Regions from separate parts of the Homo sapiens genome. Here region 2 is linked to region 1. Evidence: fine-mapped expression QTL. Tissue or cell type: whole blood. Region 1 holds a variant in brackets; the other region holds the start of a gene. All regions are shown on one strand. Distances are from middle to middle.

What was found. PIP is the estimated chance that this variant, and not a neighbour inherited with it, causes the effect.
Region 2: TJP3 starts here. The variant in region 1 is fine-mapped to the expression of TJP3 in whole blood (INTERVAL, PIP above 0.99).

The regions. Positions count from the first base shown.
Region 1 is chr19:3,796,341-3,799,019 of GRCh38, forward strand. It overlaps a transcript of MATK not described here. Among named protein-coding and RNA genes, the nearest start is that of MATK, 11 kb to the left of the region's middle. The variant C/T (reference allele first, on the strand shown) is at 1,142.
Region 2 is chr19:3,706,932-3,709,610 of GRCh38, forward strand. TJP3 (tight junction protein 3) reads left to right here and starts at 1,453. Exons shown (of 21, transcript NM_001267560.2): 1 at 1,453-1,630. RefSeq lists enhancers at 898-1,561, 1,562-2,223.

The sequences.
Region 1 (2,679 bases):
CATCCCTTGATTTATCAGTTGGATGTTGTCCATTGACTTCCTATTCCAGAAGGTCAAGATTTAGCTCTCTTAGGCATTCTGCTCCCCCAACAGTTAAATCACAATTTTTGCTTAAATGAAAATTCAGTGCTTATAGTATATATATTAATATAAATATTATTGACAGTGGAGCAATGTATACTAAGAACATTATTTTCTGGGACCTGCTTTTTTATTTCCCTGGAGTTAGTCATCGCCTTGGTTTTATGTGTCTGTGACTCTTTCCCCCAGCCTCTCCACCAGAACTGACATCTCCACTCAGGACTTTCTCCTACTGCCCAGCTGTGATCCTGGCCCCTCTCTTCTTCGGCACAAGGGGATTCTTAGATATAGCTCCTGTTTCTTGGGTGTGGGTCTCCCTGTTTCTTGGTTTGGTCCCTTGTTTTAGGAATGTGCTCCCCCTAGGGTTTCCAGAGAAAGTGTTTTCCTCCTACTCTCCTGGGTAATTAGAGGTTTGGCTGACAGTATTGTAGGTGGATACTTTTCTTTTGCCCAATGTTTTCCAGCTTCTAGTCTTGGGCAGCTGAATGATCAGAAGTTGTCCTGTTTCCTCATACTTTGCCTGTCCCATGGTTAATTTCTGTCTCTCTCTCTCTCTTTCTGGAAGCTTGTAGAATCTTCTTGTTCCCTACATCCTGCACTTTCACAGTGGTGGGTTTGGTGTGGGTCTGTTTTCAACCATTGTGCTGAGTACTTGGTGGGCTCTTTCCTGTGTTCTCTTCCTGGCAAACTTTCTTGAATGATATCATTGGTGATTTCTTCCACTTTGGTTTCTCTGGCGTGTTTGTGGAACACGTTATTGTCATAGGGTGGACTTCTTGGATTGATGTTTTCATTTTCTTGCCTACCTTCCCCCCCACCCCCCCACTTTCTACTTTTTCTTCCAACCCTTCTATTGACATTTTAATTTTGACTATTAATTTTTTTTTTTTTTTGAGACAGGGTCTCACTCTGTTGCTCAGGCTGGAGTGCAGTGGTGCAATCACAGCCCACTGCAGCCTCGACCTCCTGGGCTCAAGTGATCCTCCTGCCTCAGCCTCCCAAGTAGCTGGGACTACAGGTGCCTGCCACCATGCTGGCTAATTTTTTTGATTTTTAGTCT[C/T]ACTATGTTTCCCAGGCTGGTTTCAAACTCCTGAGCTCAAACAATCTGCCTGCCTCAGCCTCCTGGAGTGTTGGGATTACAGGCATGCACCACCACACCCAGTGACTGTCAGAGTTTTAATTTCCAAGAGCTCTTTCTGGTTCTTTTACCGTTCCTCTTTAAAGGACAAACTTGGCTGTGTGTGGTGGCTCACGGAGCTCAGGAGTTTGAGACCAGCCTGGGCAACATAGTGAGACCCCAATCTCCAAATAATATGTAAATAAATAAAAGAATTTCTTGGCCCAGTGCAGTGGCTCACACCTGTAATCCCAGCACTTTAGGAGTCTGAGGCTGATGGGTCACCAGAGGTCAGGAGTTCGAGACCAGGCTGGCCAACATGGTGAAACCCCATCTCTACTAAATATACAAAAATTAGCCGGGCATGGTGGCTCATGCCTATAATCCCAGCTACTTGGGAGGCTAAAGGAGGAGAATCGCTTGAACCTGGGAGGTGAAGTTTGCAGTGAGCCAAGAACACATCACTGTACTCCAGCCTGGGTGACAGAGGGAGACTCCATCTCAAAAAATAAAAAATAAAAATAAATAATAAATAAATAAGTAAATAAATAAAGGCAAACTTATACTTGTTTCCTGGCTGTTATATCCTCTATGAGCTCTCCGAGGATAAGATGCATACAGGTTTTGTTTTTTTCTGTTCTGTGTTTGAATCAGGAACATAAGGATTTTTCTAGAACTGTTTTCTTCTGCCCTCTTTGTCTCTCCTTCAGGTTACTTTTCTTTTCTCTTTGTGGGTTTTGGTCTCTCTGTTGACTAACAATTATGATGGAGTGCTACAGAGCTGACGGAAGCCTCCTCACCACAGGGCGGCCTCACTGTGGGGTGGTTGGCGGGTGGGGGTGGGGGTCACTGGGCAGGAATCCCGAAACATTGGCAGCATCTGGAAGGCTTTTCTCATAGCCTGGCATCCAGCGTTCTAGAAGCCACAAGAGGTTAGACATCTGGGGTTGTGACTTTAATGGCCTGGATTTTTTATTTTTTTTATTTTTTTGAGACAGAGTTTTGCTCTTATTGCCCAGGCTGGAGTGCAATGGCACAGTGTCAGTTCACTGCAATCTCTGCTTCCCAGGTTCAAGTGATTCTCCTGCCTCAGCCTCCCAAGGCTGGGATTACAGGCATGTGCCACCAAGCCTGGCTAATTTTTTTTTTTTTTGGTAGAGACGGGATTTCACCATGTTGGTCAGGCTGGTCCTGAACTCCTGACCTCAGGTGATGCACCTGCCTCAGCCTCCCAAAGTGCTGGGATTACAGGCGTGAGCCACCGTGCCCGGCCTGTTTTTTTTTTAAGGCAGGGTCTCACTCTGTCGTACAGGATGGAGTGCAGTGGCGTGATCATAGGTCACTGCAGCCTCAACCTCCAGGGCTCAAGTGATCCTCCTGCCTCAGCCTCTCAAGTAGCTGGGACTATAGGCATGCATCATCATACCTGGCTATTTTTTTTTTTTTTTCAGAGATGGGGTCTTGGTATGTTGCCCAGGCTG
Region 2 (2,679 bases), 89 kb before region 1:
GTTGGAGTGCAGTGGCACAGTCATAGCTCTCTGCAGCCTCAACCTCCCAGGGTCAATTGATCCTCCCACCTCAGCCTCCTGAGTTTCTGGGACTACAGGTGTGTACCACCACATCTGGCTAATTTTTAAAAAAGTTTTCTGGGCTGGGCGTGGTGGCTCACGCCTGTAATCTCAGCACTTTGAGAGGCCAAGGCAGGCGGATCACCTGAGGCCAGGAGTTCAAGACCAGCTTGGCCAATATGGTGAAACTCCGTCTCTACAAAAATACAAAAATTAGCTGGGCATGATGGCTGGTGCCTGTAATGCAATCCCAGCTACTCGGGAGGCTGAGGCAGGAGAATCACTTGAAACCGGGAGGCAAAGGTTGCAGTGGGCCGAGATCAAGCCATTGCACTCCAGCCTGGGCAACATAGCAAGACTCTGTCTCAAAAAAATAAAAAAAAAATAAAATAAAAACAAAAAACAAAACAAAACCAACAACAGCCAGCAGCAACAACAAAAAAACTTTTCTAGGCCAGGCTCGGTGGCTCACGCCTGTAATCCCAACACTTTGGGAGGCCGAGGCGGGCAGATCACTTGAGGTCAGGAGTTTGAGACCAGCCTGGCCAACATAGGAAAACCCCGTCTCTACTGAAAAAAAAAAAAAAAATTAGCTGGGCGTGGTGGTGCACGCCTGTAATCCCAGCTACTTGGGAGGCTGAGGCAGAAGAATCACTTGAACCCAGGAGGCGGAGGTTGCAGTGAGCCGAGATCGCGCCACTGCACTCCAGCCTGGGTGACAGAGGGAGACTCCATCTCAAAACAAACAACAAACAAAAGATATATAAAAATTTTTCTAGAGATGGGTTTCACCGTGTTACCCAGGCTGGTCTCAAATTCCCAGGCTCAAGTGATCCTCCCACCTCGGCCTCCCAAAGTGCTGGAATTACAGGTGTGAGCCACCACACCTGACCCTTTCTTGTTTTTTAGATGAGGACAGCAAGAAGCCCCTGTAATTTGCCCAAAGCCACACAGCGGGGAAGTGGCAGAAGCTTCTGTACGTAGGAACCCAGTCACTTCGTAGCAGAGAGGCAGACTGCGCACAGATCTGCGTGGGGAAGGGAGTGCGCCAAGCCACAGCCTGATGGGCCGGCGTGCCTGGCAGGAGGCTCAGCAAGCACAGAGACTGGGCAGCTCCAGATGCAAGAAGCAGGAGGGAGGGGGACTCCGGGAGTGCGGTCCATTCATGTCTGAATGTAGCCAACGAGGGTTTCCTAAGCACCTACCATGTGCGGACGCTTGATACCAGGGCCTCGGCGGTGAGGGCACAGGCAGGAGCAAGCTCACCTCTGGGCAAGCAGGGGTTAAGGCCAGTTGCTCCCACGTGAGGGCACCTTGCGACAGAGCCACACACCCAGTCCTCCTGCTGGCCCGCCCCTCACCCTGGTCCGTCTCCCTGTGTCTGTGGTCGTCAGTTCCACTGGCAGGGGACCTGCCTCCCTGTTGCCACCACAAGAGAGGAAAAGTTGGTCAAACAGGTGGGGAGGCCAGAGCTACAAGCCTCGGGTTCCCTCCCCACCACCCGTGCCAGGCAGGCACCCGGGCCCTGGCACCTGCTGCCTGCCCAGAGGCCACCCAGCCTCCTAGACAGGTAAGTCCCCCGCCCCACTGTGCTTTTCCACCCAGTGTGCATTGTCTGAGCTGGCCTTCCCCAGCTGAGGGTCCTTAGACTCCCCCCCAACCTCCCCCACCACGAGCTGTCTCCCCGGCTCCTCGGAAAGCAGGAAACTGACACTCCTGCGTGGGCATCTGACATAGTTTCGTAGGGATTATCTGACCGGCAGTTACTGCACCTGGCGGCCTGCCCAGGACGCTGAGCTGGAAACTTAAAAGGGTCATTGTTACCTAGGTGGCGCAGGGACCGGGGAGGCGGCAAAGGGGCACAGGTTGGTCTCTGATCCCCCTAACTGAGGAGGGGAGGGGATATCAGTCCAGACGGAGCCTGGGTTTACCTCCTGCAGCCCGAGGCTAGGAGGTGACAGGTGGGAAAGGCTGCGACCTCACTCATCTCTGAGCCTCCTGGAACTTCTTAAAAGGCTCCCAAGTTTTGAAACAACTGCGTCTCCCGCCCCCCAACCCCTCACCCTGTTCTCACCGCTGGAACCTCCAGGAGCTTTGCAGGGAGGGATTGGGGTGGCCTTTCTTTTGCTAATTTTTTTTTTGAGACGGAGTTTTGCTCTTGTTGCCCAGGCTGGAGTGCAGTGGTGCGATCTTGGCTCACTGCAACCTCTGCCTCCACCTCTGCCTCCCGAGTAGCTGGGATTACAAGCGCCCACCACTATGCCCAGCTAATTTTTGTATTTTTAGTAGAGATGGGGTTTCACCATGTTGGCCAGGCTGGTCTCGAACTCCTGACCTCAGGTGATCCAACCCCCTCGGCCTCCCAAAGTGCTGGGATTACAGGCGCAAGCCACTGCGCCCAGACTTCTTTTTCTAATCTTTACTCCTCCGAGCAAAATCTCTGTGGGATGGGGCAGAGGGGAAGGAGGAAGGAGCGCTCAGAGCCAGAGAGGGGAGGGGTCGGCAGCAAAAGTGTTTTTCTGGGTCATTTGCTCCCAAATGGGAAGACCAAGGGAGCTTCCTCGTGAGCCAAGTGTCCGATTGCATCTCAAGTCTCTCTCCAGAACCAAGAGGGTCCCC